Linked DNA regions of Homo sapiens: all the other regions are linked to region 1. The links come from fine-mapping of genetic effects on gene expression. A gene starts in region 1. Each other region holds a variant in brackets. All regions are shown on one strand. Distances are between the middles of the regions.

The links.
Region 2: its variant is fine-mapped to the expression of CD33 in monocytes after LPS (Fairfax 2014, PIP 0.95).
Region 3: its variant is fine-mapped to the expression of CD33 in whole blood (INTERVAL, PIP above 0.99).
Region 4: its variant is fine-mapped to the expression of CD33 in whole blood (TOPMed, PIP above 0.99). The same link has a PIP of 0.9 or more in subcutaneous fat.

Annotation. Positions count from the first base shown.
Region 1 is chr19:51,221,963-51,230,066 of GRCh38, forward strand. CD33 (CD33 molecule) reads left to right here and starts at 3,118. Exons shown (of 7, transcript NM_001772.4): 1 at 3,118-3,193; 2 at 3,256-3,636; 3 at 3,841-4,119; 4 at 4,347-4,394. The coding sequence starts at 3,157. All of the region lies in intron 2 of LOC107985327 (a long non-coding RNA gene), which reads right to left.
Region 2 is chr19:51,263,633-51,271,736 of GRCh38, forward strand. It overlaps SIGLECL1 (SIGLEC family like 1), which reads left to right. Exons shown (of 6, transcript NM_001385465.1): 2 at 251-462; 3 at 1,736-2,017; 4 at 2,145-2,250; 5 at 3,741-3,897; 6 at 4,939-5,698. The coding sequence starts at 441. The coding sequence ends at 4,965. LINC01872 (long intergenic non-protein coding RNA 1872) reads left to right here and starts at 7,634. Exons shown (of 3, transcript NR_136526.1): 1 at 7,634-7,940. LOC107985327 (a long non-coding RNA gene) reads right to left here and starts at 7,535. Exons shown (of 4, transcript XR_007067309.1): 1 at 7,387-7,535; 2 at 6,531-6,612. The variant G/A (reference allele first, on the strand shown) is at 3,406.
Region 3 is chr19:51,304,812-51,312,915 of GRCh38, forward strand. IGLON5 (IgLON family member 5) reads left to right here and starts at 6,833. Exons shown (of 8, transcript NM_001101372.3): 1 at 6,833-7,115. The coding sequence starts at 7,037. The variant G/A (reference allele first, on the strand shown) is at 3,605.
Region 4 is chr19:51,243,056-51,251,159 of GRCh38, forward strand. SIGLECL1 (SIGLEC family like 1) reads left to right here and starts at 8,025. Exons shown (of 6, transcript NM_001385465.1): 1 at 8,025-8,104. All of the region lies in intron 2 of LOC107985327 (a long non-coding RNA gene), which reads right to left. The variant C/T (reference allele first, on the strand shown) is at 3,187.

The sequences.
Region 1 (8,104 bases):
GTAGGGATGGAAAACATATCAGCATTTTTTCATGGACTAAGTGTGGAGGGAGGGTTGACTACCCAGAGACAGGAGGAAGGAACGTTTGGTTAATGACACTCTTCAGTGTCTTCACAGTGGTTGTGGGTATATAATTATATACAACTCTCAAACCATATCAAAATTGCATATGATAAAGAGTTAATTCAACTGTATCTAACTTTAAATAAATTAAAAAATTTAAAACACTGGATGCCACTATGCTCTCACTAGAATTGTTCAAATATAAAGCAGGACAGTATCATACGTCGACAAGGGTGTGGAGCTACTGGAATTCTGGCACATGGCTAGGAGGAGTGGTAAAAAGTCAAAACCATTTTGGACAACAGTTTGGCAATTCCTACTAAGGTTAAACTTACAAGTAGTCATTAGTCTGACTATTTATCTTCCTGTGTATACCAATTAGTATAAAACCATGTATGTAAAAAGACTTGTACCTGAATACCTGTAGGGAGAAAACTGGAAAATCCTTGTCTATCAATAGGTGAGAAATAAAACATTATAGTATACACATAAATGGAATACTACTTAACAATATCACATTTTGAAATACAGACACAAACAACGTGGTTCAGTTTCAAAAAATATTATGCTGGGTCATAGGATACAGACACAAATTAACACATCTCTAGGAGATTTTCAAATAGACTAACTCACAATGAAAGAGGACATATCAGTGGTTGCCCAGCATAGAAGGTGGGAAGAAAAGCCCTTGGCATACTAGAAATGCTGTATATCTGCAGTGTGGTGAGTATACAGGCTGTACATACTCGTCAAATCTCATGCAAATGTGAACTTCAAGTAGGTGTGCTTTATTTCATGTAAATTATACCTAATTAAATTCATTAAAGAAACACAGTAAGACTCACATATTCATATTTGATCTTCTGGTCCATGAACATAGTATGACTTTATTGTTAAAACTAAATGTGGCTGGGCACAGTGCCTCATGCCCATAGTCAAAGCACTTTGGAGGTCGAGGTGGGAGGATTGCTTGAACCCAGGAGTTCAAGATCAGCCTGGGGGAACATAGCAAGACCCCATCTCTCCTAAACATAAAAACAAAAAGTTACTCCGGCCTGGTAGTATGAGCCTGTGATCCCAGCTACTAGAGAGGATGACGTGGGAGAGTCACTTGAGTCTGGGAGGTCAAGGCTGCAGTGAACTGTGGTCAGGCCGGTGCACTCCAGCCTGGGCAACAAAGCAAGACCCTGTCTTAAAAAAAAAAGCACTAAATGTATTGAATTTTCTATTACGTGCCACATGCTAAATATTTAAATAACTTACAACAGATATTATTTACTGGAGACTTAATTTGTTGTATATCAAATGAGGATGCAGCTACCTCTCTATTAGTAAGGATGAATGAAGAGTTATCTAGATACTATTGTGTGTAGAGATTTGACAAAGGTATGGTGGCAAGTACTAATATGTCCCAGGGATCAACGGTTTGCTGGATGCATACTACACAGAGTGATATGGAAAACCATGTAGCTGGACCTAAAGTTTAATTTTCTCTGTACACTCCACTCATGTTGTCTGGAAATATTATGTCTTTGGGCCATATTTAACTGTGAGAAGCAGATTTTTACATGAAAGAAAATGTTGATCCATATGATGAGCCTCTAAAAAAACTTGCTTCTGCCCACACTGAACCAAATGGCAGCATGAATGGAAAAGAAGTTTTTTCTGCACTGGTTCATAGAACATGTGTTCTCCCTTTTGTTTCACAGGAAGATGCTGCATGGTTCTTGTTTTGGAGATGTCATTGACACTGTGCAAATCAGTGTACTAGGTGCCAGGGGAAAATTCTATAGTCATATTTCTTTTAAAATTTCCAATATGCTACCATGATACATGGCAAATTCCCAACTTTTCACAGCTCTAAAGCCAGACAGCATGTGTGTGTGTGGTGAGGACATGAGGCTATGGATGGGGAGTATCTTAAGGGCAGGAATCAGGTCAGTGGCATCTCTTCTCAAGCCCCACCTATACACAAAGGCTCACTGTAAGAATTAAAGAAAGAGGAAAGAAACACGAATGGTGGCTCACCAGTCAAGACAGATTTTAGAGAAAACAAACCTGAGAGGAGTTTCTGGCCGAGTTAAGTCAGAGGCACACTCTCTTACAGACTAAGAGTTTTTAAGGATTTAGGGTGGGAGAGTTTATCAGAGACTTGGACTGCTTCTGAGTCTCTTTGTTGTGCTTATCTGGGAGAGAGAGGTGTGTGTCTGTACCCATACATCTTTCTGCAGCTACAGGCATACCCACTGAGTCTGCTTTTAGCTTCCCTATCTTAGTGCACCTGAAGGGAAAGGAATTTGCTTATTAAGGCCCACTGTTTTACTAGGGCCATTGTATGAGGGTGAAGTTTGGCAGTAACTCAAGAGACTCTCCCCCTACCTCCCTCTGTGCCCGAGCTGTCTTATCTGTGTTTCACTGTCTGCTCTTTCTGGTTGCTTGTAGTTAGCAGAGAAGTGATTTCCTTGAAATGCATGAGGCTAGAAAGGAAATTGGAACTTAAAGAGGCAGTGTTTCTCCGAGATGACGGTGCTCCTGCTCTGTCACTCACTATATCTTTAGTGAATGAATGAATAAATGAATGGCTGCCACCTTCACTTTACCTAGGACTCTTCTTTGTTTCTCTGCCCCAGACACTCACACGGACCCTATAGAATCCTATATCCTGCTGGACTAAACACCCCATGGATCTAGGTGAGGCTGCGACTCGGGCCAGGCCAGCAGTGATCAGCCCTGGTGTAAACAGTTGTGCACAGAAAAGCACCTCAGAGTGGAAGGACTTTAGACATGGGGTTCGCATGTCTCAGATGGCCCTGAAGGTACTGATCCAGGCTCTGGTGCTCCTGGAAGGCAAGACTCAGATTCTGCTCCATCTCCTCCCATCTCTGGGCGGGTCTCTGGCATCTCTGGCCCATGAGGGTCAATCTGTGTGGAGGGGACAAGCTCTGAGCATGTGTGGGTCTGAGGTTCCTCTTCCATGCAGGGCTGAGGTCTCCTGCTCCTCCCCAGCTTCCTGTCCGGCCCTGTAGTCCTTCCCCTCCACTCCCTTCCTCTTTTCTGCTCACACAGGAAGCCCTGGAAGCTGCTTCCTCAGACATGCCGCTGCTGCTACTGCTGCCCCTGCTGTGGGCAGGTGAGTGGCTGTGGGGAGAGGGGTTGTCGGGCTGGGCCGAGCTGACCCTCGTTTCCCCACAGGGGCCCTGGCTATGGATCCAAATTTCTGGCTGCAAGTGCAGGAGTCAGTGACGGTACAGGAGGGTTTGTGCGTCCTCGTGCCCTGCACTTTCTTCCATCCCATACCCTACTACGACAAGAACTCCCCAGTTCATGGTTACTGGTTCCGGGAAGGAGCCATTATATCCAGGGACTCTCCAGTGGCCACAAACAAGCTAGATCAAGAAGTACAGGAGGAGACTCAGGGCAGATTCCGCCTCCTTGGGGATCCCAGTAGGAACAACTGCTCCCTGAGCATCGTAGACGCCAGGAGGAGGGATAATGGTTCATACTTCTTTCGGATGGAGAGAGGAAGTACCAAATACAGTTACAAATCTCCCCAGCTCTCTGTGCATGTGACAGGTGAGGCACAGGCTTCAGAAGTGGCCGCAAGGGAAGTTCATGGGTACTGCAGGGCAGGGCTGGGATGGGACCCTGGTACTGGGAGGGGTTTAGGGGTAAAGCCTGTCGTGCTTAGCGGGGGAGCTTGACCAGAGGTTGATCTTCTCTCAGGCCCTCACCTGGACCCTCCCTCCTGATTCTGCATCCCCTCTTTCTCCTCACTAGACTTGACCCACAGGCCCAAAATCCTCATCCCTGGCACTCTAGAACCCGGCCACTCCAAAAACCTGACCTGCTCTGTGTCCTGGGCCTGTGAGCAGGGAACACCCCCGATCTTCTCCTGGTTGTCAGCTGCCCCCACCTCCCTGGGCCCCAGGACTACTCACTCCTCGGTGCTCATAATCACCCCACGGCCCCAGGACCACGGCACCAACCTGACCTGTCAGGTGAAGTTCGCTGGAGCTGGTGTGACTACGGAGAGAACCATCCAGCTCAACGTCACCTGTAAGTGCTGGGCCAGGATGCTGGGGTCCCTGAGGGTGTAGGGGAGACAGGATGGGCTGGTGCTGGGGACATTTAGTGTCCTGGAGGCCTGGCTGAGTTCGGGAGCCAGAAGGACATGAGCCCTGTCCCTTCTGCATTTCTGTGGTTTCTGGCAGGAGTAAGGGGAAATGCCTACCCTTATCTCATCTCTACCCCCAACTGAAGGAAATCCTCTCTTCCTCTCCTAGATGTTCCACAGAACCCAACAACTGGTATCTTTCCAGGAGATGGCTCAGGTAGGAAGGAGCCTCCCCGCCTGGGGCTGTTACTGACATTGAGTCTGTGTCAGGTTTGGTCAGATCTGGACTTTCAGAGTCAAATGTTCAGAGGCAAGGCCTGCAGTTAGACACGGGTAGACATCAGGCACCTTGGAAAAGGATATTTGGGGATGACTAGCAACTTCCCCCTTGCCCATCCAAATAATGCTCTTTGTCTCCCTCCTGTCTCTGAATGTCTTGGGGTATTTTATTTTTAATTGATATGTAATAATAGTACATATTTATGGATGGCATAGTGATGTTTCCATACTAATAATGTATAGTAATCAGATCAGGGTAATAGCATATCCATCATCTTGAACATTTATTATTTCATTGTTGTTGGGAACATTCAATATCCCCTTTCTAGCTATTTGAAGCTATCTATTATTGTTAAGCATAGTCATCCTACAGTGGTATAGAACACCAGAACTTATTCTTCCTTTCCAGGTGTAATCTAGTATCCTTTAACAAATCTCTCTCCTTATCATTGTTCCCCTAACCTTCCCAGCCCTTATTATTCTCTGTTCTACTTTTTACTTCTATGAAATCAACTTCTTGTAGCTTCCACTTATGAGTGAGAACATGTGGTATTCAACTTTCTGTTCCTAGCTTATTTCATTTAACATAATGTCCTCTAGTTCAATCTATGTTATAGTGAATAACAAGATTTCATTATTTTTTATGGCTGAATGATAATCCATTGTGTATATACGCCACATTTCCTTTATTTATTCATCTGTTGTTGGACACTTAGGTTTATTTCATATCTTCCTATTGTGGATAATGCTGCAATAAACATTGAGGTGCAGACGTTTCTTCAATATACTGATTTCCTTTCCTTTCTATAAATGCCCAGTAGTGGGGTTGCTGGATCATATGGTAGTTCTATTTGTAGTTTTTTGAGAAACTTCCATACTCTTCTCCATAGTGGTTATACTAGTTTACATTCTGGTCAAAAGTATATAAGAGTTCCCTCTTCTCTACATCCTCACCATCATTTGTTAATTTTCATCTTTTTTTTATCATAGTCCTCCCAACTGGGGTGATGTTACCTCATTGTGGTTTTGATTTGCATTTCCCTGGTGATTGGTGACGTTGAGCATTTTTCATATACACTTGTTGGCCATCTGTATATCTTTTCTTGAGAAATGTCTACTCAGATAATTTGCCCATTTTTAAATGAGATTGGGTTTCTTTGCCATTGAGATGTATGAGTTCCTCGTATGTTCTGGATATGAATCACTTGTCAGATGAATAGCTGACAAATATTTTCTCCTATTCTGTAGGTTGCCTTTTCACTCTGTTGGTTGTTTCCTTTCTGCATAGAAGCTTTTTAGCTTGATATCATCTCATTTATTTACTTTTGCTTTTGTTGCTTGTGCTAGTGAGGTCTTACTCATAAAATATTTTTCCAGACCAATGTCCTAAAGCATTTCCCCTATGTTTTTTTCTAGTATTTTTTAAATTTTGTGTCTTATATTCAGGTCTTTGATCCATTTTGAATTGATTTTTGTATAGGACGAGAGGTGTGAGTCTAATGTCATTCTTCTGCATATGGCACCAGTTTTCCCAGCATCATTTATTAAAGAAACTGCTCTTTCCTCAATGAGTGTTCTTCATGCATTTGTCAAAATTCAGTTGGCTGTAGATCGTGGATTAATTTCGGTGTTCTCTATTATGTATTATTGGTGTATGTATCTGCTTTTATGCCAATATCATGCTGTTTTGGTTACTACAGCTTTGTAGTTTTGAAATCTTTAAATTTTTGAAATTTTGAAATTTTCTAGTTTTGAAATTTTGAAATCTTGTAGTGTGATACCTCCAGCTTTGTTCTTTTTTGCTTGGGATTGCTTTGACCATTCAGGCTATTTTTAGTTCCATATGAATTTTAAGATTGTTTCCTCTAATTCTGTGAAGAATTACATTGATATTTTGATAGAGCCAGGTTTGAATCTGTAGATTTCTTTGGGTAGTATAATCATTTTAGCAATATTAATTCATCTGATGAGTAAGGAATGTCTTTCCATTTGTTTGTATCCTCTTCAGTTTATTTCCTCAGTGTTTTGTAGTTTTTCTTATTAAGGCTTGTCACCTCCTTGGTTAAATTTATTCCTAGGTATACTTCATTCTCTTATAGCTATTGTAAATGTGATTGCCTTCCTGATTTATTTTCAGCTAATTCATTGTGTGTAGAAATGCTACTGATTTTTGTATATTGATTTTGCATCCTGCAAATTTACTAAATTCATTTATCAGTTCTGAGAGTTTTATTGTTAGAGTCTTTAGGTTTTTGTTTTGTTTTGTTTTGTTTTGTTTTGTTTTTGAGATGGAATTTCACCATGTTGGCCAAGCTGGTCTTGATCTCCTGGCCTCAAGCAATCTGCCCACTTTGGCCTCCTAAAGTGCTGGAATTACAGGCATGAGCCACCACGCCTGGCCAAGTCTTTAGGTTTTTGTATGTTATTTGCAGAGACAATTTGACTTCCGCCTTTCCAGTTTGGATGGTTTTTATTTCTTTCTCTTGCCTAATTGCTCTGGCTAGGACTTTCAGTACTATGTAAAATAAGAGTCATAACAGTGGACATCCAGTTCCTAGAGGAAAAGATTTCAGCTTTTCTCCATTCAGTATGATGTTAGCCATGGGTTTGTCATATATGGCCTTTTTTGTGTTGAGGTACTTTCCTTCTATACCTAATTTATTGAGAGTTTCTATCATGAAACAATATTGAATTTTAACACATGCTTTTTATTCTGCAACTATTTAGGTGATCATACGGTTTATGTCCTTCATTCTGTTGACATATGTATAACATTTATTGATTTGCATATGTTGAATCATTCTTGCCTTTCTGGGATTAATCCCACTTTATCATGGTATGTTATCTTTTTGATGTATTGTTGGATTTGATTTGCTACTATTTTGTTGAATATTTTTGCATCTATGTTCATCAGGGATATTGGCCTCTAGTTTTCTTTTTTTATTGTCTCCTTTCTGATTTTGGTGTCATGGTTATGCTGGCCTTGTAGAATGAGTTAGGAAGAGTTGCCTCCACTTCAATTTTTTGGAATAGTTTGAGAAGAGTTGGCATAATTTTTTTTTCTTTAAAGGTTCAGTAAAGTTCAGCACTGAAGCCATCCAGCCCTGGAATTTTCTTTGTTGGGGGGCCTTTTATTATTCATTCAATCTCATTACTTGTTGTTTGTCTGCTGAAGTTTTCTATACCTTCTTGATTCAATCTCGGTAGATTATATGTGTCCAGGAACTTATCCATTTCTTCTAGACTTTCAAATTTGTTGGCATATTGTTCATAGTAGTGTCTAAGATCCTGTGTATTTCTGTGGTAACCATTGTGACATCTTCTTTTTTATTTATGATTTTATTAATTTTTATGTCTTCTGTCTCTTTCTTAGTTTAGCTAATGATTGTCAATTTTATTTATTTTTCCAAAAAGCGAACTTGTTCATTGATTTTTTTTTAATTTCATTTATTTCTGCTCTGATCTTTATGATTTCTTTCATTGTGCTGATTTTGGATTTGGTTTGTTCTTGCTTTCTAGTTTCTTGAAATGCACAGTTAAATGGTTTACTTGAAATTTGTCTAATTGTTTGATGTAGGCATTTATTTCTCTCAAGTTGTCTCTTAAAACTGTTTTTGCTGTGTCCCATAGGTTTTGGTATATTTTATT
Region 2 (8,104 bases), 42 kb after region 1:
CTGTAATTCCAGCTACTCGGGAGGCTAAGGCAGAAGAGTCGCTTGAACATGGGAGATGGAGATTGCAGTGAGCCGAGATCGAGCCACTGCACTCCAGCCTGGGCGACAGAGTAAGATTCCATCTCAAAAAACAAAAATAAAACAAAGAATAAAGCAGACATGACACTGAGGCTTCACAGACAATCTTAGTTGCCTCCCTGTCCGTACGTGCTCATGAGCCTCTCATCCCATATAATTCCTGCTTCTCCAGGTGAACAGGCCTTCACGATGACCAGAGACAGAAGCCCCTGACTTGGCTAAAGATACTTCTGCTCTCCCCATCCCCACATCCTCTTTCAGTTACGCATCACCTCACTCCTTCTGAACCATATGGTTCTGATGTCAGAGCCAGTGTAGTAAAGAGCTTCTGCTGTTCCTGAGAACTGTTGCTGCTGGAAGTGATGCTTCCACTGCTACAGCTGGGTAAGTAAGGTGAGAAGCAGCACTGGAGGTGTGTTTGGAAGCCAAGACTCCAGGGCCTGGGTGTTGGCAGGGCAGAGGATGGGCTATGGAGGCATGGAGAAAGAGGACATATGGGCATAAGTACCAAATAATCAACATGAATTAGACAGCTTCTGTGTGTCAGATTTTGACAGGGCTGGTGTGTCTGAAGCAAATAGCAAATTGGGCAAGGGAGAGGGATGGAGAGTGTAGGTGCTATGAAGGCATGAGAGCACTAGGAGCTGTTTCAGACATTACTGGAAGCCCTGAAGTTAAGTTTTTCAGTGTTTCTGTGGGCACACTTTGCCAGGTGGAAAAGACAATTCAGAGGACAGCCATAGAGGGGTCCGTACATGAGAGTCCCCCGCAGATTCCTCAACAGCGCCCCGCAAGTGACTCAGGTGAAGAGACCGAGATCAGGAGCTACTGGTTAGGGGAAAATTACCCCTTTCTTCCAGTAACCTCAAAAAACTTCAACGAAAAAGTGTGTGTCAACACTGAAGACAGATTCCTCATTATTAGAGACCTTGATGAATGTGACTGTTCCCTCCTAATCCATGATATTCATCAAATGGCCACCATGTCCTACCTGTTCTAAATAGAGCGAGGCAATTTCCAGCATTCTTACACAGAAGATGCCATAGTACATTTGGCTTCCAGTGAATGTTCCACCAAAGACCACTTGAGACCGGGAAGAAGGAAATTAAGAAAGGTGTTCTGTTTATTGAATGGGTAATACTTCACTACGCACTGAGCTGGGTGCACTGCAAATCTTGGGGCATTCATTCTTATAACGATGATAATATGAGATAGGTTCAGCAAATATCCCGATTTTCCAGGCTAGGAAACAGCAATGATAAGGGGAGTGACTTGCCCAGCAGCACCCAGACAGGAAGTGATGGAGGGAGAATTGGTCATAGAGCCTAAGAGGAACATTGCAGGTGGGAAGAAGAGAAGCAGAGTAGGAGGTCTGGCTTGGACTTCTAGCCTTGCAGGGTAGGTGAGGGATCACAGACAATGTAGAGCCTCAGGAAATTTACTTGCCACCCCTCAAGAAGGTCTAGCGATCAGGTTCAGGCCAGATGAGGACAGAAGATAGAGGGGAACTGGTCTGGGAGGCCTGAATCCTGTGGGCTTCCAGAAAGTCCTTCTGAAGCTCCTTGTGAATAGCAAGTAAAGAGAAGGCTGCATGCTGGAGAAACTGGAAGAGGGAAGCCAGGATGCCTTGCTGACTCCTGACCCTTCCTCCCCACAGTACCTGCTAAGCTGCTCAACTCCTCTTGCTCCTTGGAGAAGACACTGCAGTGCAGCTGTTCCTTCCATGGGATTCCCACACCCTCTGTGCAGTGGTGGATGGGAGGAGTCCCCGTGGGTGTGGATGGCATGGATGGCAGCCTCCAAGTGACTTCCACCATGCTTGGCCCCTGGGCTAACAGCACCATCAGCCTAACTGAAGAGCCAGAAATGGGCATGAGACTTCTCTGTGAGGGGAAGAACCAAAACGGAACCCATGCTTTGAGCATCCTACTGATGTCAAGTGAGGGTGGAGGGGGCTCGGTGACTGGGTGAGGACAATAAGCGGGATGGGGACAGTCACTGGGGCTAGAGAATGGAGCAGAGTTTTGGCTCCGATGCCAAACTTCTCACATGCTCTCTGCTTCCAGGAAAGAGTTCTTTGGCTGCCCAGGCCTTCGTGAAAGGGCTGATCCAGGGTGCTATCTATGCGGGAATTGTAATTGCGCTGCTCTTCCTCTGCCTCCTCCCTCTCATGTGAGTACTAGGGTTAATATTCACCCGCAAGCCTACTACCGGGCAGGCCCTGGCTGCAGCCCTGGCACAGAGAGAGCAAAGACAGGACCCCTCCCCTCAAGGAGCTTAGGGTCTAAAGAGGGAAAGATGTACCAAACATGGTCACCACAATCCAGGGCCATGAGGACTATACAGAACCGTAAAACTGTGTCATAAAACAGACACTTTGAACACATTTTATAAAGGAGAAGACCAAGAAGGGACTTGGCAGCCCTGGAAAAGGCAGCAGCGAGTCCCCGGGGTGCTGTCTGTGGTGGGCCTGCAAGGGTTCAGTACTCGTTAGCTTGGTGGAAAGTATTAATAGTACAGGTTGAGTATCTAATCCAAAAATCCAAAATCCGAAATGCTCCAAAGTCCAAAAGTTCTCGAGGCACCGACATAATGCCACAAGTAGAAAATTCCACACCTGACCTCATGTGATAGTTCAATGCACACAAACTTTATTTCATGCACAAAATAATTTTAAATATTATATAAAATTACCTTCAGGCCATGTGTATAAGGTATATATGAAACATAAATGAATTTTGTTTTTATACTTGGCTCCTATCCCCAAGATATGTCATTATGTATAAACAAATATTCCAAAATCTAAAAAAAAAAAAAAAAATTGAAATCTGAAACACTTCTGGCCCCAGGCATTTCAGATAAGGGATATCTAACCTTTGTATGCAGACGCCCAGAGGCATGTTTGAGGCATTTCCAGTGTCTTTGTATAATGTCAGGTGCATTGAGAGTACCAGGTAATGGCTAAAAATGAGGTTGAAAGACATCCTTGGTGTTGGTTCACAGGGTGTTAAAACTTAGCTGCATGTATTAGCTAGAAGCATGGAGTGGGAAGGGGTGAGTTGCAGGAAGTCAGGCCAGAGAGACGGGCAGGGGAGCCTGTCCAGACAGCTTGGACTGAATCCTCATTTCGGAGCCATGGAAGAGTGCTAAGCTGTGAAGGAAAGCTTGAGCTTGGGGTGGGACACAGATTAGAGAGAGTGAGAGCCAGAAGGTCAGAGGCCAGGCAGGAAGCTGGTGCAGGGGACTAAGCAGGAAATAGAAGGCCTGACCTGGGGCAAGTGATGAGGGGCAGCCAGAGAGGTGGGACTTGGGCATGGCTGGCTATGG[G/A]GAGACAAAGATGAGGAGTGAGGTGTCAGGGCAAACTGAGGAGCTATTTTCAAAGTATAATCAACAGGACTTGAAGACCAGTAACAATCTCTCTGCCAGTTGCAAGGCCCTTTCTTAGCTGACCTCATCTGAGCCCCACAGCCTAATAAGCAGGGTATCCCCCTTATTCAGAGTGTGAAACTAATTCCCAGAGAGGATGTGTGGCTTGCCCTAGGTCATACAGCAAGCTGGTACTGTTGTTGAGGCTCTAAATCAGAAGTTCTGGTCAAGATAGAGCCCATTTGGGGATTCAGGGAGATGGAGAGCCAGAACCAATCCAAGGCTTATTTCCTTAGAGTGAAACATATCAGAAAGAAGCAGGCGAAGAAAGCTGCAGCGATCAGAGCAAAAAAGAGCTCTAAAGTCAGAGCAAGCCAAGAACTTGAGATGTCTCTGAAGCCTGAGGAACCAGGAAAACCCGTAGTCGCCACATTTTCTGAGAGCCGGATATTGGTATGTACCTATTGTGTCTGGAATCTAGTCTATCGGAATACTGATAATAAGACCCACAGGGAAAGGAGCACACAGTGTTTTGAAGGTGTTATCATCCTCAGTCTTGCAGGATACCTAATGCTAGAGTGTGCTTTCAGGTCATTTTATAAATAGGAAGCTAAGGCCCAGAGAGGAGAAGGATGAAAGTTAAGAGAAACAATTTAAAGAACAATTAAAATCAATTTACACGCACACACCATTACATTGAATCCCCACTGAAAAGGCAGTTGGGGAAAATCCTAATAGCAGTTGTAGCATCAGAGTGGAAACCAAGGATTTGGCCTCTGAGTGTATGGCCGGCAGCAGTCAGCTTGGTGTAGATGCCACAGGCCAAGTCAGCCTGAAGTGGTTAGAGATTAGGCCAAGCCCAGGTTACTCCTTCATTCACCCTGTACCCCACATCTTCAGCAGGGCTTGGAAGATACAGTGTCCGAGGTTGCTATGCCTCACTGTTATTTACCGTTTATGATTCTCCAGAATCAGAATTATCCTGCTGCCCTCCTAACACCCTGCATGAACAGTTGGTGTCCTTTTGTAGATAAGCCATCTGTTAAATTCCACCAATATTTCCTGCAATATCTCCTAATCTTTGTGCTCGACAATGCTGGGGTCTCAGAAATGGGCCAAACCTAGGCCTTGTCCTCAGAGAGCAACTAGACTGGTCGAGAAGGCACCTTCACAGTAGGGGATGCTGAGCCAGGAGTTACGGTGGTGCAGAAGAGGGAGGGACCAAACCTACCTGAGGAAGTCAGGCAAGATTCCCTGAGGAGTCTAAGGAACAGTCAGTGTTATGGGTACTGAAGATGCACAGAGAGGACCAGATGGAGAAGACCGAGTTGCAGGCTTTAACCATGGGGTTGTGAGGAAGGGCTAAGCCAGTGCTCACTCCATGTTGCCTTAATTCTGTGCACAAGGGGGTGTCTTTTTAAGATTTGGATACCTCACCTCTAGACCTGTTCCAACATTCTTTTTTCTTTGTTCTATTTTGCACCTCGCTTTCAGGAAAAGCAAGATAAACGAGCCAGCTAAGCCTGTGGAACATGCCTCATACCTGGAGTCGCCATTATCCCTGGAATTACAAAGATCTGCAAAATTTATAGCGCTCACAGAAACCCTGGAGGCTGTAATAAACCTGGAGCCCCCTGGACTCTCCTCAGCTCACAAAACCCTCTCAATTCCTACACATCCCTTAACACTCATTCTCCATTGAATAGGTGGTTACTCTTAGACCTAGTCTTAGAACCTCTGAAGACACACTTTGTAATTTGTTGTTTGGCTAAATGAGAAGAAATCTGTGCCACCCTGGGAAGGTGTCAAAAGAAGGAAAAATACATGTGACAATATGAATCAAGTCCATCAGCAAGTTACTTTTGAGCGCCTACTGTGTGTCAGTGCCTGAGATACACCTACAAGAGCGCCAGGCTTTCAAGCCTTCATATCTGGATAGAATCCCAACTTCAGTGCTTGGTGGCTGTCTATCTTTGGACAAGATCTTTCATTCCCCATCCTTTGAACATCACATGACCCATATCTGGGTGGAGAATGGGTGAAAAGTACTGTTCAGAGATGCAGGTGAGAAAAAACATGACGATGGGCCCTGAATGCCAAGATTCATTGGAGCTTTGGAGCTTTATCTTGTAGGACCTTATCCTGACTCCCTTAGAATGTAAGTTCCAAGAGAACAGGGACTTTGTCTGCCTTGTTTTCTACTTTTATCACCAGCACCCAGAATGATGCCTAAAATACAATAAGATCTCAAGAATGTTTGTCAAATGATTTAATTAATTATAAGCTGTTTTAAGGTTTGAAGCAAGCAAGTAGAGTGACCAGATATAGACAGAAAAATCATTTCCGTACCCTGACCCCACATATGATATATTTAGAATGGGTAAGGCTGGAGGTAAAGATGCTAGTTAGGAGGTTATCGCAATAGTTCTTGGCCAGATTGAAAGGCAGGCATGCAAGGAATGGGAAAGGGATTCTGGCATTAGAATGAACCACAACTATGTATTGTTCCTCTCAGAATGGATGACAACCTCCTTTCTAGCCAGATGCTAGTAGATTTTTTTTTTTTTTGAGATGGAGTTTTGCTCTTGTTGCCCAAGCTGGAGTACAATGGTGCAATCTCGGCTCACTGCAACCTCTGCCTCCCGGGTTCAAGTGATTCTCCTGCCTCAGCCTCCCGAGTAGCTGGGATTACAGGCACACACCATCACACCCAGCTAATTTTTTATAGTTTTAGTAGAGACAGGGTTTCACCATGTTGGCCAGGCTGGTCTCAAACTCCTGACCTCAGGTGATCCACCTACCCCGGCCGCCCAAAGTACTGGGATTACAGGAGTGAGCCACCGTGCCTGGCCAGATGCTAGTAGTTTTCAGTAGGTGGAAAGAGGGTCATCTCTTCCCTGGGGCAATATTTGTGGGTAAATACAGTGATCCTGTAGCACCAGCTAGATGGTCATCTTATACTCAGGGTGGACGTTTACGTTAGCCCCCACATGTATAAGCACCTCTCACAGGCAGTTCACATTTCACAGAAATATCAGATGTGCCACCATGTGCCAGATAATGAGGGGAAGAAGTAAGACACTCACCCTGCCTCCGTGGAGTCATGGTCTACATAGACAGACGATGAAGAAATGCAGACGAATTTATAGCTTAAAATGTTGATAAGTGCTAGAAAGAAAACAGGACAGAATACTATGAGAAAGCACAGGAAAGGAAGCTAGGTTGGATTACAGAGTCAGAGAAGGCCTCTCAGAGAAAGTGACACTTGCCTTGAGACCTATAGGATTATTAGGAGCTGGCTAGACAGAGGGAGCAGTAGATCCTAAGCTCTGACATGAGAACAGTTTGGTGAGTTCAGGAGCCCAGAGCAGGCCGCTGTGACTGGAATTGACTGAGGGATGAGCTCCTGAAGGGCCAGAACTTGCAGGCCTTCCAGGGCTCTAGTGGGAAGTTTAGGTTTTGTCCTCACTTATGGAGGGTTATTTCCTCTTATGCTTTGTAATTCTGGAAAGTGCAGATTGTTTGAGAATCACATCCAGTGGAGCTGTGTGAGAATCCTGGGCAGCAGAGGTTTTGAGTTGAGGATAGAAGCCTCTATGTAACAGGTTTGGTGTTTGCTTCTACTAAAGATACATCCTCTGTTTGGGAGGGAGAGGCAGACAAGGCTGGGGAGAGGGAGAGTGCCAGTGTTGGGAAAGAAGAGAAAAAAATGTAGAAAAGGAATAGGAGAGAGGATAGGGATCGGGTTGGAGATAGGTCAGAGATGGGTTTGGGAATGGGAATAGAGAGGCTGGGCTTCATCGTGTGTCTTGTTTTCTCGGTGATAGGGGCCTCGCGTGCAGGACAGGAAACAATGAGTACACAGGGTGCCTTCTGACCAGCCCTGGGGTCCAGCACTAGTCATTTTGTGCCTTAGTTAATGCCTTGACTTCCCGCACATACCAGGTTGAGAGAGGAACGTCCCTTAGCAACTGATTGGCCTGGAGTCTAGAGGACTGGTGGGGGTCTGGAACCAGCTGCCCAAGGAAAACGATTCTCCCAATGTCCGGGGGACGCAGTAGCAACTGTTGCTTCTGACTAGCTCAGGCTCTGGAGACCCGCGCGCTCTCTTATGCGGCTGCGCATCCCAGCAGCTCCCGCGAGAAGGGTCAGGCCCTGATTGGCTCTGGACAAACCCGCGCGAGCTTGCGGGGCGGGGCTTCAAGGGATTGGTATCCCCGTGCAAGGAGGTTGGCGAGGCCTCAGGGGACTCCCAGTTCAGCGAATCCGTTAGCCTTCCTCTGCCTTAGTCACTTCCCCGTGAGGCACTCCGTGTTTGTGTACACGGTTATTCCACGTGTCAGTCAGTTCATCGGGCGCATCCGGAGTCATTGAAAACAGTAATAGGAAGTCAAACAAACCCGCTTGATGCAAAAATTCAGGAGGACATTCGGTTTTTAAGGAAATAGTGCTGAGGAAGGACCAGGCTGGAGCTCCTTGGACCCTGAGACTGGGAGGTAAATATGGAAAAAGAAGTGATAATTTAGGGGGAGGGAAAAGAGATCACCTGTGAAGAAAACTCACGCACACACCAGGGCCTGGAGAAGGAAGTGAGACTGGAAAGAGATCAGAATTTTATTTTTATTTCATTATTTTATTCATCTATTTAATTTGAGACAGT
Region 3 (8,104 bases), 83 kb after region 1:
GCTTGAGGCCAGGAGTTTGAGATCAGCCTGGCCAACATGGCGTGACCCTGTCTCTACAAAAAAGTTTAAAACTTGTCAGGCATGCTGGCATGCATCTGTAGGATATGCAGGAAGCTAAAGTAGGAGGATCACTTGAGCCCAGGAGATGGAGGTTGAAATGAGCCAGGTTTGCACCACTGCACTCCAGCTTGGATGACAGAGCCAGACCCTGCCTCAAAAAAAACAAAATAGTAAATGCCACTTCTATGGGACAATTGGGTTGGTTTTACTAGGACCACTGCATCAGGTAGGAGAAAAAAATGAGGTTATATCTGGAAGAAAGAAAAAAATATATAGTCATTATAGCAACTTGGTAAGAATTGCATAGCCACACCAGCATTCTCCCTACCCCCACTTTCCCAGGTCAACCAGAAAACAGGAAAGTCTAGTGGTGACGCTCCTCTAGTCCCATCAGGTTGAGTGTGAGCACACAGGAGGGCATGTAAGCCAAATCTTCCTGTTTTTTTTTAAATTTTTATTTTTATGGGTACATTAAAAAAAATTATGGCTACATCCTTCATGCTTTTATCTCCCCTGTTTTTGACAACCAAAGTTTTAATTGCTCATTCCACTTCTTGATCAAATTATTACCCAAAGGACAGCTCTCTGCCCATTGCTGGACATTATGGGCTAGACAGTGTGTTCCTTGGTCGGAAGAAATGACGGCAGCCTGTGCAAATGTGTGTAATATATTCTGTTCTGATTCTTTTACAGCACTCTGAGCATTTGCATCTTCCACTGGGTAAGCAAAGGCCAGCCCAGAGTCAGCGTCTATTCCTGTCAAGACCCATTTGTAGCCCCCCAGGGCTACCAGCATCAGCCTCACTTGCCAGCTGTGCTTGGGACCTTCCCACCAGGGAATCTGGCCCATAGCCATCTGCAGCTTCTGTCTCTCCTGCTGGCAAACAGAACAGTTCTTATTGGCATTATGTGCCTGAGAGGGTGCAATAGAAACATATTTAGATTCAGCCCATCTCTGCACTGCTGCAGTGCCCTCATGTCCTCTCATTTCATGCACCCAGGTGGCCACCCAGTGAGCACACAGGGATATCTGCTTGTCGATTTCAATCACCTTCCAGACCTGGAAGAGAGCTCTTCTGGTGGGCATTGACATGTCCTACCTTAAGGACCCCTCAAATTTCCAAAGGGCTGTGTGTGTCCCATATGGACATCCCTTTAATAGGCTAGGTTTCCATTATCCACCTGCTTGACTATATGGCCAAGCCATTGGCCACTGCCTGTGAGTCAGTAAAAACCCACACGGAAGGGCTTTTACCACTGTTCAATTCTTCAGCATGCAATTCAGCTCACTGGACGGATTTGTTTTTATCTTCTTTGATCAGAATGGCATCCTTCTAAATAGAACGTGGTCTTTTCATCTTGGCACTGTCATCTGCACACCAAGCAGCTCTTTGTTGGCTAGTTGAGAGCTGTTTATAGGGCACTGTCCAAGTGGCAGTAGGATCCAGCTGCTCCCCATACGCTTCCAGAGTCAGTCCGAGGGAGAAAGAGGCTCCTTTTTTATTAGTATCTCCTCCTTGCATTCCCTAGGTAGCATGATCCTGTATAAATCATTTCTAATTTATTAGGGGACTCTTCTGGGCATTTTAATCTCCATTAGAGTGTTTTTAAACATAATCCAAGAGATTATTGGTATTTCAGGCTTCAAGATCATTTTATGTCCTCAGTCATAGGGGTAGCTTGAATTAATATCCCATAGAAAGTAGTATTATGCTCTTCAAATTGAAATTCTGTAGTCCAGAGTCTCAGTAGTTGTCACTGGAAGGTGCTTATAGGCTGTTCCCATAGGCCCCAGTCTGGGTTCCATACAGGGCTCTGTCTCAGAGAATTTGTCCATAGCATCACTCTGTCTTCTATTCTACATTTTGTGGGCTCCAGAGATCTGACTGGTTCCTATTTAGCATGTCCAATTAATATTGATTAAAGGCAGATTTACATGGCTTTTGTTTCATAATGCTAGGTATGGGAAACATTTCCCAGTCTGATACAACATCCATCCCCATAATATAATCAGGTAAAATCACTTCAGAGAAAATGTGTTCAAATATACCAACTCTCCTATAAAGGTTTATCTTAATTCCACCAACCCTCACTTTCCTAACTGTAGCCTCTATTAGAACTTTATCAATGGTTTTTGGTTTCACAATACTACAACCCTTAAATTTTTACATTCTCTCAATCTAATCCCAAGTCAGGACTTCACCAATGGATGTTGGTACCATAGTCAGTGGACCTCCCATATCAAGGAGTCCCATGAATTTCTCTTCTGCATCCCTGATCATTTTGTCCACTTGTGTACATAAGGCTTTAGGTCCCCATCAGGGCGTTGAGCAAAAGAACTCTTGCTTGTTGGTTAATCTTTATCTTGATTAAACTGCCAGACTATTGCCCCAGAAAATTTCAGATCAGATGTCTTATTTTAATCTTTGCTTTCTGACTTTTAAAATTTCTCCAAACTAAGGTAAATACAGCAAACTTTTTTGGAACCCTTTAATGTTAGGGAACCAACAAGTACTCCCTTTGGCCCACCCAACCTTAAATAGTATTATATTAAGACTTTTGTTCTAACTCCATCAATTTCTGTTTTACTCATCCCACTTCTGACACCAAATCTGAGGCTATAGGGAAGACAACCAAAGTGCTTTTTCTATTCTCTCACTTAACAATCAACACTTCTCTTTTGATTGGTGTCACCAAGAATTGTGTAGGGATTTCTCCCCACCAGCAACCAATTAATCAGTTCTGCAGTGGACACGAATTGGGTGTACTCCAATTCAATCCTCATACATCTACCTGGACTTCACAGCAGATCCCACAAGTTGAGGGCTTGGTCCCACAAGACTGTCCCCCACTTCCAATGCCAATTGTAGGCTCCAGGTTCTTTACCTGTGCTTCTGACTGACCAGCTATAAATTGGGGTTCCATAACACCTTTCTCTTCAATTAATTTTTTAGAGCAGCTCAAAGAACTTAGAAAAACACTTATGCTTACCAGTTTATTATAAAGGATATTACAAAGGATACAGGTGAAGAGACGCACAGGGTGAGGTGCAGGGGAAGGAGAATGGAGTTGCCATGCCCTCTCCAGGCATGCCACCTTCCAGGAACCTCCGTGTGTTCAACTGTCCGGAAGCCCCCTAAACCCAGTCTTTTGCGGTTTTTTAATGGAACATTCATTACATACGCATGATTGATTAAATCATTGCCCATTGGTGCTCCACTTAACTTTCACTCCCTCTCCCTTCCACAGAGGCTGGGAGATGAGCTGAAAGTCCCAACCTTTTAATCATGCCTTGTTCTTTCCTGTGACCAACCCCCATACTGAAGCTACCTGGGGCTTGCCAGTGGACGTAGCGGGGGTGTTATGAAGACCAAATATATATTTCACAGTATCACACATTTATAGCTCTTGGGATGTAAAAAATTCTCCATGTCTCTTTGTCCTCACCTGTGAAATAGGGATAAAGATAAGTGCTGCCTCAGAAGGGTGTCATGATGCTTCAAGGAGATAATATGTACAAAGTGCTTAGAAAGATCCCTACACC[G/A]AGTAAGCACTCATATTTTATCAGGCATGGGATGGGCCATTTCAGGAAGAGGGAGCTCCTGTTCTCATCCTAAGTCTGAACGGTCCGGAATTCAAAGAGGATCAATAAATGGCCTTTCACCAGGATCACAATGGATTTTGTAGAGTGGTGGGCTGGCAAGCTGATTCAGTGTTCACCATTGCTGTGGTGTAAATCCTCCCAACATGGCCAGTTTCAAGCTAATAATGGTTTAACACCTGGCTTGCACAATTTCTGAAAATTTAATAATCAGCTCTTTTGAGCCAGTGCAAGCCACCTGCAGAACACCATTAACTTTTGCATCACCCAGTTTTGTGAACGCAGGCAGGTCTCTTCCTCCCTCTGTATCTTACTTCCCTCCATCTCTCCAAACGGAGCTAAGCCATCCGACTCACTCATGCAGTACGTATTTATTTGAGTACGTACTACATGTCAGTCACTAGGTTGGGCTCTGGAAATCCAGCCTTGAACAAAAGCAGACCAAAACAAAAACAAAAAACTCCGTGAAGCTTACATTCTGGAAGTGGGAGTAGGGGGAGAGCAACTAAAAATAACAGTGAAAGAAGGAAATCGGCCGGGCGCAGTGGCTCACACCTGTAATCCCAGCACTTTAAGAGGCCGAGGCGGGCAGATCGCCTGAGATCAGGAGTTGAAGACCAGCCTGACTAGCATGGAGAAACCCCATCTCTATTAAAAATACAAAACGAGCCGACTGTGATGGTGCATGCCTGTGATCCCAGCTGCTCAGGAGGCTGAGGCAGGAGAATCACTTGAACCCAGGAGTTAGAGGTTGTGGTGAGCCAAGATCATACCATTGCACTCTAGCCTGGGCAAGAAGAGCAAAACTCTGTCAAAAAAAAAAGAAAGAAAGAAAGAAAGAAAGAAAAGAAAAGGAAAAGGCAAAAGAACATTGTTAGTGCTATGAAGAGGTATGACGTAGAGTTATTGTGCTGGGAGTAGCAGCTACTTTGGAAACTATGATCAATGAAGGCTTCTTAAAGGGGAGAAGATGAGCCTTAAATAAGAAAGAGTCATCTGCCAGTGTGGTAGGAAGAGCATTCCAGCGAAAGAACGGCAAGTACAAAGACCCTGGGGCTGGAATTGTTCGGTTTGTTTAAGGAATGGAAAGAAGGTCACAGCGAGCTGAGTGATTGAGGCAGGGAGTGGCCCTAGCTGGTCCAGGTGTTTAGTGGTGGTTGTTCTGAAGGTGGAGGCAAAGGTAGAGGCCAAGAGAGTAGAGCATAGGCTGCTACAGCCAGAGTCCTACAGGGAGAGGTGGTGAAAGCTCAGACCAGGATGGGAGAGTAAGAAAAGGACAAAGCAGAGATTTGTTTTGGAGACAGAGCCAGCGGTTCTTGCAGACAAATTGGATGTGAGTGGAGGGGGAAGGAATTGAGGATGGATATGTTTCTGAGGCAGAACAGCCCCTACTGGGTAACTTCAAAAGCTCCTGCCTTGAACTGCTACAGAAATAACGTAGACTCAGAGATTATTTTGCTCCTGCGTATGCCAAGGGGACGGGAACAGGAGGGTGGAATACACCTAGTAAACAGATGCAAAGTGGAAAGGGGAGGGAGAAACTCACTACAGGTTTTTGAGGTGCTGGCTGGAGCCAGGAGCTGCTCCAAGATCTCTCATTCTTCTCAATAACCTTGGGCAATAGGGAATTTTCCACCTTGCAGGGGAAGACGCTGAGGTTCTGGGAAGAGAAATGGCTTGTCCAAGGTCACACAGCCAAGTCAGTGAAAGAACAGGGAGCCAGGATGTTTTGCACCTAAACCCTGGATTATGGTTTCCTCCCCACCTGCTCCCCCAAGATAAGTCCCCCAATCCCTTCCCATTGCCTTATTATACTGGGGATGAGGGTTGGGGTGGAGGAAAAAAGCAAATTTCACTCCAAAAGTCAGTGTTTTCGTTATCCATGAAAATAGATGGAAAAGCTGAACTGTGGCCCACAGGAAGAGGGGCCTGGGGGCCTGGCCTCCTGGGTCTGAGGGAGGAGGGGGCTGGGGGCCTGGACTCCTGGGTCTGAGGGAGGAGGGGCTGGGGGCCTGGACTCCTGGGTCTGAGGGAGGAGGGGCTGGGGGCCTGGACTCCAGGGTCTGAGGGAGGAGGGGCTGGGGGCCTGGACTCCAGGGTCTGAGGGAGGAGGGACTGGGGACCTGGACTCCTGGGTCTGAGGGAGGAGGGGCTGGGGGCCTGGACTCCTAGGTCTGAGGGAGGAGGAACTGGGGACCTGGACTCCTGGGCCTGAGGGAGGAGGGGCTGGGGACCTGGACTCCTGGCTCTGAGGGAGGAGGGGCTGGGGGCCTGGACTCCAGGGTCTGAGGGAGGAGGAGCTGGGGGCCTGGACTCCTGGGTCTGAGGGAGGAGGGGCTGGGGGCCTGGACTCCTGGGTCTGAGGGACGAGGGGCTGGGGGCCTGGGCTCCAGGGTCTGAGGGAGGAGGGGCTGGGGGCCTGGACTCCTGGGTCTGAGGGAGGAGGGGCTGGGGGCCTGGACTCCTGGGTCTGAGGGAGGAGGGGCTGGGGGCCTGGGCTCCAGGGTCTGAGGGAGGAGGGGCTGGGGGCCTGGACTCCTGGGTCTGAGGGAGGAGGGGCTGGGGGCCTGGACTCCTGGGTCTGAGGGAGGAGGGGCTGGGGGCCTGGGCTCCAGGGTCTGAGGGAGGAGGGGCTGGGGGCCTGGACTCCTGGGTCTGAGGGAGGAGGGGCTGGGGGCCTGGGCTCCAGGGTCTGAGAGAGGAGGGGCTGGGCCTGGACTCCTGGGTCTGAGGGAGGAGGGGCTGGGGGCCTGGACTCCTGGGCTGAGGGAGGAGGGGCTGGGGGCCTGGACTCCTGGGTCTGAGGGAGGAGGGGCTGGGGGCCTGGACTCCTGGGTCTGAGGGAGGAGGGGCTGGGGGCCTGGACTCCAGGGTCTGAGGGAGGAGGGGCTGGGGACCTGGGCTCCTGGGTCTGAGAGAGGAGGGACTGGGGCTAGTCTCCTAGGTCCATGGGAGGATGAGATTGGGACTTGAAGGAGGAGGGAGCTGGGTTTTAGGAAGTATCCCAGACTCCGTGTTCTGCGGATGTGGTGGAAAGACGTGGGGACGCCTGGGGCGGGAGGGGTAGGGGCCGGGCCGCAGTAACAAAGGCCTCTCCCTCCAACAAGCAACCCCCCCTTGACCCCGCCTCCCCGGCCCCCCACCTCTCCTGATTGGCCGGTCTCCCTGCCCGTCAGCGCCGCCCCCCTCCCCGGGTCTGCAGCAGCTCCAGCCGCCTCGTCGCGCCCCCCCAGCCCCCTCCCCCCGCCCCCGCCGCCCCCCGGGCCGGTGCAGCGCAGGCGGGGTCCCCCTCCCCCTCCCCCCTCTCCCCCCAGGCCTCGCGCGCCCCGGACCGGCCCCCCCTTTCCCCTCCCCCTCCGCGCCGCCTCTGCCGCGATGCCCCCCCCTGCGCCCGGGGCCCGGCTCCGGCTTCTCGCCGCCGCCGCCCTGGCCGGCTTGGCCGTCATCAGCCGAGGTACCGCAGCGCCGGGGGCGGGGGGCTCGGCCGGGACGCCAGGGTCTTGGGTGGGTAATCGGGGGATCAGGGGTGGGGGTCGAGGGCTGCATCCCTGGGCCGGCGCGGGGAGGCCCCGGGACGCCGGGGTCTGGGCCCGGGGGTGGGGTCTGCATTCCCTGGCTGGGCAGGGGGACCTCGGACGTGGGGGTCCGCGCCCCGGGGCAGGGGTCGGCGTCCTCGGGCCGGAGCCGGGTCTAGGGGCGGAGGTCTGCTTCCCCGAGCAGGCAAGAGGGTCGCAGACACCTAGCCCTGCCTGGGGGCAGGAGTCTGCGGCTCCTGTTGAGGAGGGGGCAGACACTGGACTCGGGGTCCCCGGGTCGGATCTCCGAACTGAGTTGGGGTGGGGGGCAGGGGATAATGCCCTGTTAGGGGTCTTCATCTGTACGTGGAGAGGGTCCCTGAAGAGGTCCTTGCCGGGGGCTGGGGTAGTCATCTCGGGACAGAGGTCAGGGGATGGATGCCTTCCCAGGGTCAGTAAGAGGAGGGGACAAGGGTGTCCACAGACCTAGTCCCAGGGTCAGGAAAAGAGGGGAAGGGTCTGAAATCCCCCAGCAGGGTCATCTAGGTTGAGAGAAAGTGTTGGTACTTGGGGAGGTTGCAGTTATGTGGGGGAGAAGGGAGCTGGAGATACAGGAAGTTGGGGTGCTGGGCTGGGGTCTTGGATTCCCAAGCTCTGATTGAATGTCTAGGTTCGTGGGGCTGGACAGTGGAAGAGCGATGGGCATGGGAGGATGAAGGAAAGACGGAAGGGAAGGGTTAAAGCAGGTTGAAGGGTTAACCCCGGCCCGGCCCGGCCCTCCCAGTTGGGGAGAGGGCCAGGGGCAGGTTTCTGCACTGAGGTTAGATAGCTGGACCTTGAGTCTCCCCAGTAGGGCCTGGCAGGCAGGGGGTGGTCAAGGAGATTCCTAGATTTCCCCCTAAGAAAAGGGAGGAGAGTGCAAGGAGGC
Region 4 (8,104 bases), 21 kb after region 1:
TTCCTCTGCCTGTTCCTCTAAGAGGCCACTGTTTGAACCACTTCCTGAATCTGGTGAGTTTATACCTCTTCCTCCTCCTCCTCCCTTCTCCTGGCTCCCTCTCCTCTGGGGACTGTGAGCTCCACTGGCCACAGTATGAAATACCTCAAGGCCCAAGTACAAGGTCTTCTCCAGCATGAAGCATCCTTCAACTTCGCACTACCCTGGGACGAATCTGGAACTCCCTCCTCTGGGATCCCACAGGCTCCCATCCATCTCTCCACCACAGCTATACTCCCAGGATCTAGAATCTGTTAAAATTGTCTTAACGAAGGCAGCAGAAGGCAGCAATTAAAATTTTCACTTCCTTCACAGTAGCCAAAAATTGGAAGCAACCCAAATGTCCATCAACTAATGAAGGAATAAACAAAATCTGGTACATTCCTGCAATGCATATCATTCAGACATAAAGATGGGCCGAAGTACAGATACATGCTACAACGTGTATGAACTTCGAAAGCATCACACCAAGTGAAAGAAGCCAGACACTAAAGATCACGTACCATATGATTCCATTGATATGAAATGTCTAGAATAGGAAATACATTTCTGGAGGCAGAAAGCAGGTCGGCGGTTGCCAGGGGCTTCGAGGAGGGCAGTGACTGCTTAGTGAGTACATGCTTTCCTTTTGGGGCAATGAAAATGTTTAGAACCAAACAGAGGTTGTGGTTACACAACGTTGTGTATGTACTGAATGCCACCGAGTTGTTCACTTTAACATGTTCATTGTATGTAACGTGATTTTACATCAATAAAAAAAAATAATAATTTAAGCTTTCAAGTCAGATCTCCAGCATCTGAACACCTGCCTCACCACTGAACCTCCTGCTACTTCCATTTGCTTATCTGTTAAATGGGGATAATAGCACCACTTAGTTCACTGGTTCATCCTGAGGATTCAATGAATCAATGCTTGACAGAGTGGCTGGTGCATGCCAAGCCCCCAGCTCTTGGGGGCTGGTCAAAGTGAACTCAGCCACTAGCCAAATTCTTCAAGGTAATGATTCGATTCACTGAATGACCTGCAGGTTTCCAGCTATATCCTTGTGGCGCCAGGCTTTTCACTTGCACCCTGATTACATGGCTGACCCTGTGGTCACAGGGAAAACTGACGTGCAAGATAGTAAAAGTGAAGTATAAAGTCTATTTTTTTTTTTTTGAGATGGAGTTTCGCTCTTGTTGCCCAGGCTGGCATGCAATGGCACGATCTCAGCTCACTGCAACCTCCGCCTCCTGGATTCAAGCAATTCTCCTGCTTCAGCCTCCCAAGTAGCTGGGATTACAGGCGCCTGCCACCACACCCAGCTAATTTTTTGTATTTTTAGTACTGTCAGGCTTTCACCATGTTGGCCAGGCTGGTCTTGAACTCCTGACCTCGGGTGATCTGCCCACCTCAGCCTCTCAAAGTGCTAGGACTACAGGCATGAGTCACAGTGCCCGGCCATATAAAGCCTATTTTAAGTCTCCATGGCCAGAGTTTTGTTCCACTTCTCCCTTTCCCTCTTCACCCATTCCTGTAAGTCACCAAGTTCCTGGCCTGTCCCCTTCCCCTTACTCTCAGATCCAGGTCCCATCTTGACTCCTCTTCCCCAGAACATGGCAAAAGCCTCCTCCCCAGCCTCTGGGCTCCAGTCCCACCCCAACCAGCCCATCACCAAAACCATCAGCAATGGGAGCTTTCTAATACTCACCTCTAACCCTGTATCTTTCTTGCTAAATATCCTCCCATGCCTGCCTCTTTGCCTCAAGATGATGTTCTGACTCTAGTGAGAGTTATTCAAGCTTTTCCCAGGCCAGGAACAGTGGCTCATGCCTGTAATCCCAGCACTTTGGGAGGCTGAGGCAAGAGGATTGCTTGAGGCCAGGAGTTAACACCAGCCTGAGCAACATAGAGAGACCCTGTTTCTACAAAAGCAAAGAACAATTAGACAGGTGTGGTGGCACGCACTTATAGTCCCAGCTACTTGGGAGGCTGAGGTGGGAGGATCCCCTGAGCCAGGCGTTCAAGGTTATAGTGAGCTAGATCACGCCACTGCACTCCAGCCTGGGTAACAAAGTGAGACCTTGTCTAAAAAAAAAAAAAAGGCCTGGTGTGGTGGCTCACGCCTGTAATCCCAGCACTTTGGGAGGCTGAGGCAGGGAGATCATAAGGTCAGCAGTTTGAGACCAGTCTGGCCAACATGGTGAAACTCCGTCTTTACTAAAAATACAAAAATTAGCTAGGCGTGGTGGCATGCACCTGTAGTCCCAGCTACGTGAGGGGCTGAGGCAGGAGAATCACTTGAACCCGGGAGGCAGGGGTTGCAGTGAGCTGAGATCGCACCACTGCACTCCAGCCTGGGCGACAGAGCAAGACTCTTTCTCAAAAAACAAAACAAAACAAAACAAAAAATAACTTTTTACAATCTCACCCTCAGCTACCACCCCTCACACATCTCAGCCACATCCTAGAGATTGCATGTCCCTCTGTGCCTCTCCATGCTTCATTCATGTGGTTCTGTCTCTTTGCAATATTGTCCCCTGCCCTCCTTCTTTGCAGCACACACTCATCCTTTGAGAGCTGGTTCAAACATCACCTCCTCAGACAAGCTGCATTCCCTACCCTGTCCCCTCTCCCAGCCCCTGTACTTTCCCACAGCTTGGATTAGAGCAGTTTATCAACTGCTGTTGGTGGGCCAGTTCAGGTTCTTGACTTTGCGGCACAAAAGAATTTGAGAGCGAGTCCAAAGTAAGAGTAGGCAAAGAAGTTTATTACAAAGCGAAAGTACACCCTGAGAGGCAGAGGGAGGGAGAGACAGCCTCTAGCATCTCAAGGTAATTCCTTTCATGGGAACTATACATACATATTCATAAAATATTGGTGAGTCCAGCATGAAAGGCATGCACTCAGAATCTATGTGCTCTAACACGCATTGCATGTATCATTAGCATATAAAATCTCCACCTAGGGGTGTATTTTCTACTATTCAAATGAGGAAAAGGTCACTATAAGCTAAACTTTGAACATAGCTGCACACGCAGAGCCCTGGAGAAGTTCCCAGCTCCCCCAAGGCAGGAATTTGTAGCTCACAGCTTCTTGGGTTTTTGGTGTTGATTGGCTGGAGACTGGGGAAACTACACCATGAATAAGTGGCTTTTGTTCTCTTT[C/T]CCAGGCCACATTAACAGGAACTTGCAACCATCTGGTGGTCTGCTTGTATCCTGTAGGACTGTTTATCTTGCAAGAGTTAGGTGCTGACTCACGAGAGTGAAAACCAAAGAATCTGCTTCGAAAGGGATCCATGGGGCTTTGCGCAAGGATACAAGTGAGTATGGCCTCCTAACCTTACTTATCCTGCCTCACAACCTCAACGATATTCATATTCTGGCATTTGGGGCTGGATAATTCTTTGGTGGTGGTGGTTAGGGGAGGGTGTGGCAGGTCAGGTCTCCCTAACCGCTGAACAGGCAGGCCTCCATAACAACTGTCTCAGCACTGATTGAGTGGTTAAGTTAAATATTAAAAGCTGACAGAGCCAGTGCCCTCATACAAAGGCTGGAATGTAACAAAAGCCCACCAAGAATTTTGCCCAGGCCTTTTCTGGGCCTTGAGCATAACAAGATAATGAAGGAATTCTTAACAGGACCCGTTTAGGATTAAACAAGTTTTATTGGGGGGTCTGAAGAAACTCCTCTAAGCCTCCACAAACAAGTTTATTGGGGGTCTGAAGGAACTCCCCAAACCTCCATGATTTAGCAGGAGACAAGATAAGGGTAATCACCCCAGCACCTGGACCCATTTAGTTTAAATAAATTTACTGAGGCTACAGAGGAAGATCTTCAGGACTGACATCTTAGTTACAGATTGGAAGAAGTTAATCGCTTACGTCCAGATGAATGCACTCTTACATGTAGACAAATAGCTTAGAAGGTATATGAGCTCTGGAAAACTTTGTAATTTTGAGTTGGTCTGGCAATATTTTCCAGATCTTCTCCCTGTGCCCAGTTACAGAAATAAACTCCCTTCTCTCCCAGTTCACCTGCATCTTGTCATTGGGCTAAGAGAATAAGCAGCCTGACCCTTGGTTTGGTCCAGGAACAAGGGTGCATGGTCAGATGTTGAGCAGCGTCTCTAGGTTGTACACACAAGATGTCAGTAGCTCCCCTAGTCCAGTTTTGACAACCAAAAAAGGACTCCAGATATTGTCAGGTGTCTATCAGGGTGCAAAAAAGCACCAAATTGAGAAACACTGAACTAGAGCCTTCCTCCTCTGTATTCACATAGATACTTGAACAAAATGAACTTTCTCTAGTTCTTCAAGTTCACTACGAAAACCACTATGTTGCCCAATTTCTTTTTTTTTTTGAGACAGAGTCTGGATCCATCACTCAGGCTGGAGTGCACTGGTGTGATCTTGGCTCACTGCAACCTCCACCTCCTGGGTTCAAGCAATTCTCCTGTCTCAGCCTCCCAAGTAGCTGGGACTACAGGTGCCTGCCACCACGTCCAGCTAATTTTTGTATTTTTAGTAGAGACGGGGTTTCACCTTGTTAATCAGGCGGTCTCGAACTCCTGACCTCAGGTGATCCACCCGCCTCAGCCTCCCAAAGTGTTGGGATTACAGGCGTGAGCCACCGTGTCCGGCCGTTGCCCAATTTCAAAACAATTTAGTGCATTTGAAGAAGTTTATCGCAAAGCAAAAGTACACCCTGAGAGGCAGACGGAGGGAGAGATAGCCCCTAGTGTCTCAAGGGTCTCAAGACCCCCAGTAAAACTTGTTTAATCCTGAACGGGTCCTGTTAAGAATTCCTTTGTTATCACATTTATGAAGACGGTCTTGAGAAATCCTGAGGTTCTAATTTCTTTGTTTTCCAAACTTTTCCTGCATGCCTACTACATGCTACACCAATACAGGAGTTAAGAAGGAATTACTTAGGCCCAGAGCAAGGGCATGGGAGTCCTTGGTAAGGCTTTTCTTTTTAATGAAAAGCAGCCCCAAATCAGTTTCTAACAAAGAGCAGCCTGCAACCTGGGAGCTTGCATGAGTGAATGACGGCAGGAACTAAGGAATGGACATTTTCAAGATGGCCGCTCCATCTTCCCTTCTCTGTCACGTGCTGTAAGGAGCAGACAAGGTGGCACTGATCAACTGGAAAGTCCATTTGCATAAGAAGATTAGGGTGGGGTTACCAGCCTTCCTTGTGTGCTATTTAAACATTATACCCGATCAAACCAATCTATGAGCCTTATGTGAATCAGACACCACCTCCTCAAATGGGACTATAAAATTTGCAGCATTCACCACCAGATGGTCTTTTTTTCCGTTCCAAGACCCCTTCCTCTTTAGAGGAAGCAGTTTCTCTTTCTCTTCTCTTCTACCCATTAAACCTCCACTCCTAAAATCCTCGTGTGTTTCTGTGTCCTAAATTGTCCTGGCATGTGCCAGCGGAACCCCATGTTTATACCCCAAGTAACCTAGCTGCTTCAGCTCCTCCAAGAACATCAAAAGGAAGAAGATACAGTCCCTGGCTCATATGAAAATATAAACTTAGACACATTAAAATTTTAAAGAATTTATTTGAGCTGACATTCATGAATCCAGAAGTGCCAAACCACCTAGTGGGCACACAAGGAAAACTTTTATAAGGTATTCCTGGAATCAAAACAAAGAAAATAGTTTCATTTGGTTAAAGGGGAACGGTAGCCTTAAAGTTTGTAATTAGAGGTCAACTTGCAGTTTCTGATTGGTAAAGTCTCTACTTAGAGGTTAGTAGGCAGTTTCGATTGGTTAAGCCTAAGTTTCATTTTTCTAGGATATGACCATTCACTTTGAGTTAGGTTTGAATTTGCTTACTTGGAAACAAAGGCCTTGGAGCCATCTCAGCCTAATGGCTTCCCAGTTAGTTATTTTGACAATTGGGAGAGCTCAAGTTCATGGGGTAATGTTTGGGAAAGGGACAGAAATAGGTAACTTACTGAAACACAGTATGATAAGGTTCCTATAAAGATGGCAAAGGATATAAATTATGGGGATAATTATGGCCTAGGGTCTGGGGACCCAAGGGCAAGAGCTTTCAGGGATGGGAAAGAAGTTAGAAAAGGCTTCTCAGAGGAAGCCCCTTTCTAACTGCACCTTGAAGGGAAAGCAAGAGCCAGCAAGCAGAGAAGCGAGGAAAAGCAGTTTAGGTACTGATAATATCAATTACAAAGCAAGGAGGTAGAAGAGGGGCTGGCAGATGTTTAGGTAATAGCAGTCAGTCTGCTACAGCTAGGGTAAAGGGAACAAAGTCAGGTCCCCTCTCGGGAAGTCTATCTGGGGCCTGCTCTGCAAGCTGTAAGGGCCATGGAGTAAGGCCCTGGAGGGTGAACATCATCCTTCAGTCTGTCACATTAAAAAAAAAAAATCTGCACATAAATAAGGCAAGATTTTATCCAAAACAATTATTCCAATAAAGGGAGAAGAATCTTTGCAGCAGTGGAAGGGGAACTGCTGCAACAGGGAGGTGGAGACTGTTGTAATAGGGAGTGGAGGTCTCCCATGTACCATAAAACAAAACCAAAAAGTGAGCTTCTATTCTAGTGGCACAGTCAAACCATAAACAAAAATACCATTAGCAAATGATATTTAGCACAAAGTGTTTTTGTTACAGGAAAGGGGTTCTGATCCAGACCCCAAGAGAGGATTCTTGTATCTCTTGCAAGAAAGAATTCAGGGCTATTCCATAGAGTAACGTGGAAGCAAGTTTATTAAGAAAGTAAAAGAATAAAAGAATGATTACTTCATAGAGCAGCCCCGAGGGCTGCTGGTTGCCCATTTTTATGGTTATTTCTTGATGACATGCTAAAGAAAGGGTGAATTATTCATGCCTCCCCTTTTTAGACCATATAGTGTAACTTCCTGACGTTGCCATGGCATTTGTGAACCGTCATGGTGCTGGTAGGAGTGTAGCAGTGAGGATTACCAGAGGTCACTCTCATTGTCATCTTGGTTTTGGTGGGATTTGGCTGGCTTCTTTTTTTTTTTTTTCCTTTTGAGTCAGAGTCTCACTCTGTTGCCCAGGCTGGAGTGCAGTGGTGCAATCTCGGCTCACTGCAACTTCCACCTCGCGGATTCAAGCGATTCTCCTGCCTCAACCTCCCAAGTAGCTGGGGTTACAGGTGCCTGCCACCACGCCCAGCTAATTTTTGTATTTTTAGTAGACAGGGTTTCGCCATGTTGGCAGGCTGGTCTCAAACTCCTGACCTCAGGTAATCCGCCCGCCTCAGCCTCCCAAAGTGCTGGGATTACAGGCGTGAGTCACCGAGCCCAGCCTTGGCTGGTTTCTTTACTGCAACCTGTTTTATCAGCAAGGTCTTTATGACCTGTATCTTGTGCTGACCGCCTATATCATCCTGTAACTTAGAATGCCTTAGCCCTCTGGGAATGCAGCCCAGCAGGTCTCAGCCTCATTTTACCCAGCTCCTATTCAAGACGGAGTTGCTCTGGCTCAAATGCCTCTGTCATTTTGAAAGTGTAATGGGTAAGAAAGTGCGTGACGGATAAAGTGTGAGAAAAAATAAACAGGGTTAAACAAGAGGAACGGAGTCCTCAGGGTTGGAGAGGAGTGTGGTTTCATCAGCACGGGCTGGAAAGGCCTTGCTGGGAAGAAAATTGGCCCACAAACTACCCTGGCACCGCCCCCAGCTGCGGATTGGCTCAAGCCCTCAAGATCCAATTGGGCACAAAGGTTGGAGGAGGGAGTTGCAGTTGCAGTTCCTGATTGACTCTGGCAGCCGTGCATCAGCTCCCAGGGGCACACGCCTGTGGGCACAATGCTTCTGCTTCATTGATTGGCTGTAGAAAAAGCTCATGCAGCCTCTGATTGGCTATAAAATAAGCCCATGCAGCCTCTGATTGGCTGCAACATAAGCCCATGCAGCCTCTCATTGGTTGTAAAATAAGCACATGCAGCCTCTGATTGGCTGTGTAAAGTAAGCCCATGCAGCCGCTGATTGGCTGCGGGTGGATGCACTCACCTAAGGATGCGAGCTAGCAGGTCTTGCAGCGGCTATCACGCCCCTCACGCCGCTATCTCTGTGCAGCCGACT